Regions from separate parts of the Homo sapiens genome. Here all the other regions are linked to region 2. The links come from fine-mapping of genetic effects on gene expression. A gene starts in region 2. Each other region holds a variant in brackets. All regions are shown on one strand. Distances are from middle to middle.

Region 1 (4,248 bases), 21 kb after region 2:
GTCAATGGCTGGCTTGAAAGCTTCAAAGGACAAGCTGACTCTCTTGTTAGGGACTAATGCAGCTGATGACTTTAAGTTAAAGCCAGTAGTCTTTTATCATTTCAAACGTCCTAGGGACCTTAATAATTATGCTAAATGTACCTGCCAATGCTCTATGAATGAAACAATGACGTCTAGATGAAAGCACATTTGTTTATAGCATTGTTTACTGAGTATTTTAAGCCCATTGTTGAGAAACACTGCTCAGAAAAAAAAAAGGTCTTTTTTTCAAAATATTACAGCTCATTGACAATGCACCTAGTCACCCAAGAGCTCTTATAGACATGTACCGGGAGGTTAATGTTTTCAGTCCTGCTAACACAGCATCCTTTTCTGCAACCAACAAATCAAGGAGTAATTTTGACTTTCAAGTTTTATTCTTTAAGAAATACACATCATAAGGCTATAACTCCCACAGATACTGATTCTTCTTATATATCAGAGCAAAGTAAATTGAAAACCACCTGGAGACAACTTACCATTCTAGATGCCATTAAAAAGATTTGTGATTCATGGAAGGAAGACAAAGTGTCAACATTAACAGACACTTGGAAGAAGTTGAATCAAACCCTCATGGATAACTTGCAGGCGTTCAAGACTTCAGTGGTGGAAGTAACTGCAGATGTGGTGGAAATAGCAAGAGAACTAGAACTGGAAGTGGAGCCTGAAGATGTGGCTGAATTGATGCAATTTTATCAGGAAACTTTAACAAATGAGGAGTTGCTTTTTATGGATGAGCAAAGAAAATGGTTCTTGAGACAAATATTATTCCTGGTGAACATGCTGTGAACATTGTTGAAATGCTAATAAAGTATTCTGAATATTGCATAAACTTAGTTGATAAAGCAGTAGCAGGATTTGAGAGGACTGACTTCAATTTTGAAAGAAGTTTACGATGAGTAAAATGCTATTTAACAGCATCGCATTCTACAGATAAAAATTTCATAAAAGGAAGACTAAATTGATGCTACAAACTTCACCATTGTCTTATTTTAAAAATAGCCACATCTACCCCATCCTTCAGCAACCACTGCTGTGATCCATCAGCAGCCATCAACATCAAGGCAAGACGCTACACCAGCAAAAAGATTTTCACTCACTAAAGACTCAAATAATCAGCATTTTTAGCAATAAACTATTTTTAATAAAACTATGTACATTTTCCAGACATAATGCTGTTGTATACTTAATAGAAGACGTTGTAGCTCAAACATAACTTTTACACGAATTGGGAAAGCAAATAATTAATGTGACTCACTTTATTGCAATAATTGCTTTATTGTGGTGGTCTGGAACTGAACCCACAATATTTCCGAGGCATGCCTGTAAGTTAGTTTTAAATTGAAGAAGACAGAAGTCAAATTTTGCTGGAGTTCACTTAGATGACATGTAGAAGATTTAGTATTTGAAATGAGGTGGTCTGATCTGTGCTACTAACGTTTGTGCTATTTTGATTTTATGTATAAGATACTTTAGATATGAATACCAGAAAAAGAATCACAGTGATTGGCCTACATTTTTAATTGTATTGTTGCCATGCACTAAGATATTATTCTTCTAAGTTTATGTGTGCTATAGGGATGTATACACATATGTTTTTCCATTTTAGGGAGATGAAACAAAGTTGAGTTGCTAATTTTGTACAGTTTTCTGAATTATTGGTTCCTATTTAGTTTCTCTAAATAGACAATTCAAAATAAAAAACATACTGATACCATCACCCAAATCCAAGATCTCCAGACATTTGAAGTAACAAGTAAAATTTGAGGTATTTCTATTATTTTTCCTAAGCCCTCCAAATCTGCTTAATTATTGATA[G/A]GCTAGAAAAAAGATAAAGATTCAAGTGTCTTTCAGTGTTAGCGCACAAAGCTTTAAGAGTAACACATATTTATTGAGTATGTATTACATACTTGGTATTCTGATCGATACTTTATATAATCATATTAAATGAGCTTCACAATTAACTTATGAGCAAGGTAATAATATTAAACCCATTTCAAGGTGAGAACATTACTTATCCAAAGCCAGATAGAGAGTAAGTTCTAAAGTAGTGATATTTCTCTAACTGTATTAAAGACTACTTGTATGAGAATTGTGTCGTGATGCTGGTAAAAACCCAGGTCTCTGTGTCTCCTCAGTCTTCCCACTGAGTAACATCAGCATTTGAGTTTCCTATTTGGTTTCTCTATGTTTTAACCAAAACCTCCGTTGAGATGTTTGAGAATCATGTTCGTAAATGGTAGCCACTAGTTAAAAAAGGGAAGCTGTGGGAAAGAAATGCAATTTTTTCCTATTATCCTGTAAAAGGGTGCCTTTCCACATATTCTGTAAATACTTCCTGAGTTACTCAGCAAAAATAAAGCACAGAACTGTTAGGAAAATACTAATTAAAGCATTTTTACTTGTCCTTCTGTCTAGTAGCCTCTGAAACTTAAGAAGCATTTATTCATTTTACAAACCCAGTGAGTTTTCTTGCAAACTTTCTTTTCCTTCTCTAGCGCAGAAAATTACTACTGTTGAATCTAACCAGAGGTAGACTTGGAATAGTAATTCTATTTGCGTAATGTTTTAATGATTGAGCTATTTTTCTCATGAACTATCTTATACAAAGAGAAACAAATATCTCTCTGTTTTGTGAGCCAGGGTTTCGGGTTGGTGCTGGTAAGAGAATAGTGAATGGGGAAGTCATAGTGTTCGCTTTCATGGAGTTTCTGGTACAGTTAACACTCTAAAGTTCTATTTTAGGTTGTAGAACTGTGAGATATAAAAGATGGTTGTTATTATTCCTATTTTAAATATGAGAAAAGGGAAGTTAAAGAGGTTATGAAACTTGTTCATGATTGTAATTTAGTTAATTGACATCTAAATTATTTTGCTGATTCTAAGTTTAATATTCTTTTTACTATCTTACACCGCCTTTCAAACTTAGATATTTTGGACAGATTTCAAACATAGATATTTTGCACAACTTATATTAATTAAGCCCTAACCTATATTGGCCTGATTTTGATGTTATATGTGTATATCTGAAGATGCAGTAAATCATACCATGTTCAGGTAATTAGAAATGAAGGACAAGAAGAAAGAAAATTAAAGGAAAATAGAACAATTGGGAAGCAAATGATAAACTCACGTGATGGCTTCTGTATATTCAAAGAAGGGACTAGGTAATTCTGATAGGAAAGATAATATTAAAAATAACTCCAGTGAGAAGAAAGGGAGAAATAAGCAATTTTCAGCTACTGATGCATTCATACATATCTTTTATTGTACAATAAAGCCCTTATCTGTGTTATCCTGTCCACCTCTTTGCATTAAGGTAGTTGGTCCACCTTGGTCATGCCAGCCTTCCTCTCACACATTAAATAATGTTTGTTCTCACAGAAGGTAGGGTGCATTTTCCCATTATGAAAATAAGCACAATTCATATTTCCTTTTCCATCTTCCAAAAACTCAAACCTGTGAAGGGAAAGTTAGAATAAATTCCTTTGAAAACTGAGCAAACAATCAGTAATCAGACTCTGCGTATAGTAGTTTGATGCACCAAATAGAGACTGAGGAAAATAGGAAAAAAAAACAAAAAAAAAAACGATTCTCATTGTTGAGAAAGTTCCACCCTGCTTGGCAGTACAAGATATGCATATTTAAAAAGCCCAATATCAATTTCATTTAGCATAAAATTAGGAGCAAGGGAACAGTAGGTACAATAGGAGCCCTGAAGAAGTGATGGAGATGGCTCCAAAATAATGGGAAAACGCATTATCTACAAGATCAGACTTTAGTTCGGTATTGATGGAAGGTCAGGACTCAGATGAACTGACAGGAGATGGAAGAGCCCTACAGGACAAGTAGCTGCACTAGATGGGAATACGCTCATGGAAAAGTGAGTTGATTCAGTAGTTTTGAAATCAGGATTTATGTTGCAAGATAAATCATCTAACACAGCAGGCTGTATTGTAATTGTCTGTTAAGTTATATTTCTTTCTTTCTAAACTGCTTATAATGAGATGACAAGGAATATATACTTATTGGTTTATTTGGAGAATACCTGCAGAACTATGTGACAAAGTTGTTCTATGTGCTGAGGATACACTGATAAAGAAAGACAAGAAAGCTAATGTCTTTCTTGTTGGGGAACTTTCATTTAAGTGGGGCGATACCGGTAAGAAGCCCACAAAAAATAGACAAGAAAAATTGAGACAGTGGTAA
Region 2 (4,248 bases):
TGCTGCAATAAACATGGGAGTGCAGGTATCTATAGTATATATACACAATGGAATATTATTTGGCCATAGAAGGAAATGAAATCCTGTCATTTGCAGAAACAGGAGTGGAACTGAAGGTCATTATGTTAACTGAAATAAGCCAGGCACAGAAAGACAAATATCACATGTTTCCACTCATATGTGAGAGCTAAAAGAATGAATCTCATGGAAGCAGAGAGTAGAATTGTGGTTACCAGAGGCTTAGAAAGGGGTGGTGGGGGATAAAGATAAGTTGGTTGGGTACAAAAATAAAATTAGATAGAAGGAACAAATTCTAGTATTTGATAGTACAGTGGGAAAACTATAGTTGACAATAATTTATTGTATATTTCAAAATAGCTAAAAGAGAAGAAATGTACTATTCCCAACAGAAGGAAAAGGTAAGTGTTTGACGGAATGAATATTCTTATTACCCTGATTTGGTCATTACACATTGTATACAGGTTTCAAAATATCACATGTACCTCCAAAATACATACAACTATTTTGTATCAATAACAAAATTTTTAAAAAACTGATATAGGCTGTGAAGGGCAAACCATGTAGTCATCTCAGAGCTCAGCTTATTCTTGTGGATATAAATGTTTTAGCTGGCTCTAAACCAAGGATTTTGTATGAAGTAATACTTATTCAAATATTTTCAACAAAATAGAGTACCTTGCAAACAGGACTTTGAGATTTTTCATTTGTTTCCCTTTACAGTTCGTCATATACGCTTCATCTTCTAGTGTTGATTGATGAAACAACGTTCCACATGAGACAGCAGAGCAATAGAACACAGAACAGGACTCTGCCTGTGTGGTGGCCGGTTTCCATCCTTTCACAAACAAAGAGATATTTATAAACAAATATTTATATGCAAATATTTGATCCACCTAGGAAAAATAGAGGGCTACTCTTTCCCACCAGGAGAGGCCTTATAGCCTGTGCACATATTTGAACAAGGCAACCAGAGACTTTGATGGTCTCAACTCTACCACTCACCAACTGTGTGATGTTGGATACAAACTTAACCACTTTGCAACTCACTTCCGCATCTGTAAAATAAGGGTGATAATAATAGCACCTGGTTTAGAGAGTTGTAAAGATAAAAGCAACATTAGTAAAGTACTTAGGATGAAGTAATCATGTTTTGAATATATTTTCCTTTAAATGTGGCTGCCAATATTTTCATGGTAATATTTTCAAATGTATTCAATAGCTTTTTCTTTATCAGGAGAAAATCAGTTGTTTTAATTAAATTGACATTGAATTTTTGATACATTTAGGAGAATTTAGTTTCTTTTTATACAGTATTGACGCTTCTAATCCCACAGCATGTTTTTCTATTTTTTTCTTTTCTTCAATAGTTTTAAAATTTTTTTGTTCATTTTGGTTATGCAAATATCTAGTTAATTTCTATCTGTAATATTTTCCTATTTATTTTTAGTAGCTCTTATAAAGGGAGCATTTTGTTTTTCCTGTCTATCCTGACATAATAAAGCAATTAGTTTTTAATTGATTTTTAAAAATATTTATGCATTCTCTTTCATATGTATAATAATAATACCTAACCATTTTATGATTTACATGTGGCAATGTCAAGAAGAATTTTAAAGTAAGATTTACTAACGAATATTAGAGAACATGCTCAAAAACAGTCCTCTCCACCCCCTCACTTCCACTTGCATTCTTGATCAAGAAGTGAAATAAAAAATACTAAGACTATTGAGTCAAACTAATAAGACACAAATCTGGACTTTGGAGACTCATTTCCCTCCCACTTTTGATAGCTTAGCTGAGGAGGAGATCAAATGGTTGAGTCAGTCTGTAGAGAGATAGCAAGGCTGATTATAGTTTTCCTGGCCTGCAAAGCTGTTTCCAGAGCCCTCAGTATACAGACCTTGGCCATCAGTATGCATACTCTCTGGTGTGGTTTCTGGGCATCAGATCCCTTAATATATAGGTTGGCGCTAAAGTAATTTTGTAAACTTTTAATGGCAAAAACCACAATTACTTTTGCTTTTAATGGCAAAAACCAGAATTACTTTAGCACCAACCTATATATTGTTATTTAGAGAAACTAGGCATTCCCTACCTCTCTTAGGCAAACCTATAGCTATGTAACATGGCAACGGAATGACACTAACTGTCTCATTCTCCTTGGGAGTGCTCTCTGTATGTTCAGTCTCCCAGTGAAGAGAACCCTTCTATCAGGACCTTCATCATCATACAAAAGGAATATCTATGCCAGGCCACAGCTGCAGATTAGTGAGTGTCTGAGAACTGCATCTTTTCTGTTATTTTTCTGCTTGAAAGTTTTTCACCAATAAATCCTACACTATGTCTGCACCATGTGGTGCTAGTTATTTGTGTTCTCTTGCATGACACTGATGATGTTATCCAAACACAATTTCAAAAACTACTTTCTGTAGTTGGTAAATATATAGAAATTGAGAAAAAGGAAGAAATATGAGGAAGAAAGATGTTATCTGTTGCAACAGTTCAATGTTCTTAACTGAAGCCACAGATGAGATTTGGCTCATTTGCAGACATATGGGTGATTGGTACAGTAGGTTTATAAACAGAAGTTTAAACTTGTAAGCTTAAGCTTCCGTTTATAAACAGAAGTTTAAAATTATAGGTCCTGTTTAACATTCAGCTCTGTTAACTCACTCATCTTTTTGTGTTTTTACACTTTGTCAAGATTTCTTTACATATTCATCAATGTCTGAAGAAGTTACTTATGCAGATCTTCAATTCCAGAACTCCAGTGAGATGGAAAAAATCCCAGAAATTGGCAAATTTGGGGAAAAAGGTAAGATTTTGAGTTATGGATGTGTTGTAAGTTTGTATAATAGAAGTGGTTATAGACTTGCATCTTCAATATTAGTGATATAGTTACTATTCAACTTAAATTTTCAATTAAGTCTCTTATGTTTAAGCAAAGGAACAAAAAGTGTATGAACAAAATGATTAGAAAAAAGGGTTTTGTAAAAACACTTATCTCTGCATTGAATAATCAATCTTTTACATTTTTGAAATTTTTTATTATCACACTCAATATAATTGGGACAGAATTTTTCAAATGATTGGGTTGTATGAAGATTTTATTTCTTTATGAGATGAAGCCATGGAAAAAGAAACATGTTCAGGAAAGTCATGATTTCATATGTGTGTGTGTGTGTGTGTTTTTTTTTTTATAAGAAAATGCTTTGTGTCAGACAGAGAGACCTTTATAGGATTTCATTTGACTATCTACCAAACTAAGCATAAATCACCCTAAAATTTCTCCTACTTCTTTTGGAGATTTTTTACTAACTTACTAAAAAATAAAACATGTTAAGTTAAATGAAATGAATCATTAAGGAATAAAGGAAGAAAAGAGGTAAAGAAATATCAGAAGACATAATATATTCATAATATTCAAAACCACATTATATCAAGTAACTTTGTATTTTTCAATTCAAATTAAAATCATGAAATAAGTGGTCCATCTGTGTTGACTTTCACTTAAACAAAACTACTCTTCATCTTACTCAGAATCCTATAGTTTTCCTATTATGTATGGTTCTTGCCTTCTGGCTCCTAGCCTTTTGGGAGTGAAATCTGCCCTAGCGAATCCATAGTTTAAATCAGTGTATTTGAGTTAAAAATAACTTAAACAGTGATAGTGGAGAACACAAAGAAGGGTGATAGAAACAGAAAAATAAGGAGAGAAGAGTGCCAAAATTCTCACATATTATTTAAGTTGTTGTCCTCTCTCCTCTCCCCACACAGAATATAACATCTTTAATATTCTAGCATTGCTATAAACAGAAATTTCACTGTTACATCTTGGATCCATTTATGATGAGCATTGTAAATCTTGAGAAAGGATAGCAGATTAATTCTGTTGGCTTCTTTTTTAATACTGAAATTTTTTTTTAGAAAGAAGAAGGGTTTAAGAATTTTACAATATTTTCTGTCTTTATTTCCTTGTTTATATTTCTTCTTTTATACACTGAAAGAGAATGGGCATATCATGAGCCTAATATTACCAACAATTGCCCTTTACTTGTCCTCTCACACCCTTTCCCACCTCTTTTCCTGCCAATCCACCTTAAGTTCCCACCACAAGAATTCCCTGAATTCACGGAAATATTGAATCCATGTCTTCTTCATGTTCTTAATCTCATCTAATTTTCTCATTATCGAGCTTAGAATCTACATTATGTAATATAACATTGT
Region 3 (4,248 bases), 61 kb before region 2:
TTCTAGCATTAAGTCCCTTCCTAACAGGTTAATTTCTGCTTCCAGGATTAATAGAAGCTTCATATGAGTTGATCGGTTTTTATACTGACTTCTGTTTCTTCTAAGATTTTAGCTTTAAATCCTTCTCCCTTTACCCCTGAGACAGAAAGTTCTGAGGAGCAGGTGATATCAGATGGAGGGAAACAGAGGAGCGGGCTGCTCCTGAATCTACTAAAAACGTTATGAGTTCATATTTGGGTCCCACCTCTAAGTTTATCAAGGGCTCTTGGTGGGACTTGAGATAAAAGAGACAGAGCCCCTGGCCCCCCCTATTCTTCCTCAAAAGTCATGAGTGGAAGGACTTCTTTTTATTTTTCCCATGCGGGACATTCCCTCTTAAAGAGACCTGTTCTTCCACATTTAAAACATCTATTCTGTCTTTTCTCTGTTTTGGGATTCTTTGGCTTGGCCCCCCTGTGTTCTTTATAGGGTCTGGCAAATGAGGTCCCGGATCCTTTAATAGGGGGCTTGAAGCCTCTAAATGGAGGTTTGGGTCATTTATAGATTTTGGCCCCCTGGGGGCTTTGTTTAGAAATGTATTGATTTGGAGCCCCCTGTTGATAGGTGGATAGCATGAATTTTGCTTTCACTTTTTGCTTTTCTTCGTATCTTCTCACATATACCTTTTGAGTTTCTCTGAGAAATTCACTTAGAGGATGATCTTTCCAATCCTCTATCTTTTGTAATTTCTTGGAAATGTCTGCCCAACTATTAGTAAAAAAATGAAGCTTTAACATTCCTTGTCCTAGGGGATCTTATAAATCTAGGCCTGCTTATTTTTTCATTTGCTCCTTTAATCTGTTTAAGAATTCTATAGGCTCTTCATCCTTCCCCTGTTGTGTGCTGAGTGTCTGAGACAGAGTCTGAGTCCAGGGTACTTATTCTTGAGTTCTTTTTATCATCATCTCCCTCAGGTCTTGCAGGTTTTTCCAGTGAGCTATGTTGTTATTGTCCCACCAGGGATCTTGGGCACGGAATTCCTCGTCTGCTGTAGAAACGTTTTAACTGGGGGGTGTTCATGTTCTCAAACTACCATAGTGGCCCTAAGGATCATGCCCCTTTCTCTCCCTGAAAACAGGATGCCCAGGATGGGCATTAACTCAGCCCAAGTATATAACTGGGGTCCTAGAAATTGATCACCGACCTGATCTGCCACTCGATGAGGGTCATCTCACAGCGGCTTGAGTTCTTTTTTAAAGCCTGGAACTTCTGAACTGGTTAGAGGAGCATTTATGAAGCTGATGGCACCCCCTCCCTGCAGCACCTCTTTTAAGGGGCAGAGAGTCAGAGCTGATTCCCCAGGGATAGGGGATAAAGGGAAGTTTTGAATATCCTTTTTACATTGCTCTACCTCACGTTGGAGTCCTTTTAGAGAAGAGTATTTAGGCTGGTAAGGAGCTGGCTCATGGGATGATAATTCCCAAGAATTGGGGTTGTAAGGGGTGGGGAACAATGTGAGCAGGGGAGGGATCTGGAGTGGGGTCTGAGGTGGCAACAGCTGCTTGAGGGGGAGAATTGGGGGTATTGAGTGGAGGAAGATGGTCTAGGGGATCCCATGTGTTGATGGGCTGTCTAGGAATAGGGACCTTTTCTCTTTCAGAGCAGTAAGATTCTAGCTTGCTCCCTCTGATTTTTAGAGGGTAAAGGAGGACAGGTCCTTGCCTCCAACAAAGAGCATACTCTATATCCT[C/T]CAGAGACACAGGGCTTTTGTCATTAATATGTTCCATTAAAAGTTAACAAATCCATTCTTCACTGGACCCAAATTTTGGCCAGAAAATTGAGGGTTTGAGGATTGGCTCTCGAGCCCAAATGAAGCAAAAATACTTTATCATTTGCTGCTTTCTTTTATGTTTGGTTCTTTTATTATCTTACCAATATTTTAGCATAATCCCTAGGCAACTATCAGGAGGAATTTCATCATCTGCCTGGCTCTTTATTTTCCCTGTCTTATTTGAAACATTTCCCATCTTGGAGGTTTGGTATGGTGTCTAACTGGAGCAGGCTTTTTCCCTGGAGTTTTCAACCTCCCCTCTATTGGAGGTTTCTAATGCTTCTGGGTGTGTGGGGGCTCAACCTCTCCTACTAGAGATTTCTTGCCCTCCCTTCTTCTAGAAGCTGTGTGTGAGTCTCAATCTCTCCTACTAGAGATTTCTTGCCTTTCTTCTCCTAGAAGCTTAGCTCCCCTTTTACTGGATGTTTCTTGCAATCTTCTCCTTTTGTTTTGTACTCACTCAGCACAGTAGTAGTGCTCGTTACCATTCACACACTTTCAACCTCCAAGATATCCCGACCTCCAAGGAAATACTTTATTGCCCCTGCAACATTTCTTACCTTGTCCTGTGCATAGAGTTACCTGGTTGCCGTGGTAGGTAGGTAAGAATCCTTTCCACCCACGTTGCTGAGAGTGTGGGTTTATTCGTCATGCTGGGGGAGGTCCTGATCCCTTTCCCTCTGAGGCCAACGCAACGAGAGAGTGTGACGCATCTCCTCATGGGAGATGATCTGGGACCCTTCCCCAGAGGAGAAAGGGTATCCCTGATGAGCCCCTATGATTGTTAGAAACAAGTGCTCTGTGCTGCAAAGAAGAACCAGCACTGAGACAAAGGATTTCTCAGCAAGGCAATTTACTTCTGCAGAAGGGTGCTGCCTGCATCAGCCATGCAGCACACTGAACAAAGGAGGGTAAGAGTTTTTATTCCTAACACGGTCCCTGCTTCTGTGTAGTTCCCCATTGGCTGGAGTCAAGACCACACAACCTAAACTAGTCCTGATTGGCTAAACACTTAAACCTTCTATGTAAGGTAGATGAGTGATGGGGGAGAAGGAGGGAAGAGAAGAGGGCCACCTGTGGAGAATAAGGCTAAACTTTTTCCAAATAAGGAAAGGAATGTAGAGTGAGGCTGACATGTCTAGGCATGTCAGGGCACAGCAAGAGCAGGAGGGCTGTTTGCAGGCTAGAAAGAAGAGAGTACAAGAAGGTTGAGCCTCTGAGCAAAGAACAAGGACATTGCACAATTAAGCCCTTTGAAGAGGAATTTATCCTCTCTGGCATGAATTAATGGTGTGATTAGTTCCATATGTTGCCAGACCTTACCAGTTGTGAAGCCAGCAAGTCCAAGAATTCTCAAAACCCCAAAAGTAGTTTATAACCTTAAAACATTTAGCAAACCTTGACTCCAACCTGCATAATTTAGCTCACCTATTTACATTTTAGTGACACCTGCATTTTACCAATAATTTTTAAGGCTGTTTTTATTTCTCAAAGATTAAAGTCATGTGAACTGAAAGTACCACAGCTTTTATCTTCCCCTTAAAAAAATACTTGATCCAAGCACTTTTCTTTAGGACAAATTAATTAGAGCTCTTTTTGTAAACATCACACACAGTATACACACAGACAGGCAGAAGAAAACCCAGTCCCTGGGCCCATTTTTTTTAAGAGACAGGGCTAGGAGAACATGTAGATATCTAACCTGATAGGGTTAGATATCTCATCACCTAAGGCAGGGCTGCTAAACAAAGCCTTGTCATGCAGTTACTGGCCATGCCCCCAGGATGTAAAGCAAGATGGAGGCCTGCAACACAAACCATACAGACATGCAAAGCACACCAGATTGGCTATAGCCCAAGACTAGCCCCACAAATCCTTTTTCACAACAAAAACTTTAGAGAGTACAAACAGTGATAGTTGGGGGGCCTGGCCTTGTAAAAATGTCCTCTAAAAGGAAAAAAAAATGTAAAGGTTAACTGCTGATGGGGTAGAAGAAGGGGATAAAAAAATCAGTTTAAAATGCCTGGGGAAGAACCTCTTATTCTTATGAAAGTGGATGCTCCACCAGGGGAAAAGCTTAATTTTCATCCAATAAAGCTGAAGCCCTTGGGTGGGGAAGGGGAAGGCTGTGGTGGCTTATGGCTGGGAGCCAGCCAGCTGGCTCTGCAGGACCCTTAGGCCGTGAGTCCCAACCCCTGCATGGAGGGGAGGCAGAGTGAGGAGACCCCACTTGCCTGTCCCTCTTGAAAAAGGAAGAAAATGGCCTTTCCCCTGACCCTTAGAGTGACAGGGTTTGGGGGCATGTTTCCCCCACCCTCAGAAGCTGGAGGATGAAAATAGGAGCGACAGTGAGAGGTTTCGAGTCCTCATTTCATTCGCCTCTTCTCGAGCACCCATGTTATGTGCCAAAATTGTTGCAGGACTTTTCCTTAGTTCAG

The links. PIP is the estimated chance that this variant, and not a neighbour inherited with it, causes the effect. A credible set is the group of variants that fine-mapping cannot tell apart.
Region 1: its variant is the best candidate, but not a certain one, in a credible set for the expression of CLEC12A in monocytes (Fairfax 2014, PIP 0.65).
Region 3: its variant is the best candidate, but not a certain one, in a credible set for the expression of CLEC12A in whole blood (INTERVAL, PIP 0.52).

What each region holds. Positions count from the first base shown.
Region 1 is chr12:9,989,790-9,994,037 of GRCh38, forward strand. It overlaps CLEC1B (C-type lectin domain family 1 member B), which reads right to left. Exons shown (of 6, transcript NM_016509.4): 6 at 3,286-3,498. The coding sequence ends at 3,354. It also overlaps a transcript of CLEC12A not described here. Among named protein-coding and RNA genes, the nearest start is that of CLEC1B, 7.2 kb to the right of the region's middle. The variant G/A (reference allele first, on the strand shown) is at 1,858.
Region 2 is chr12:9,968,852-9,973,099 of GRCh38, forward strand. It overlaps CLEC12A (C-type lectin domain family 12 member A), which reads left to right and starts at 2,558. Exons shown (of 6, transcript NM_138337.6): 1 at 2,558-2,836. The coding sequence starts at 2,746.
Region 3 is chr12:9,908,321-9,912,568 of GRCh38, forward strand. It overlaps a transcript of CLEC2A not described here. Among named protein-coding and RNA genes, the nearest start is that of CLEC2A, 22 kb to the right of the region's middle. RefSeq lists an enhancer at 1,850-3,049. The variant C/T (reference allele first, on the strand shown) is at 1,730.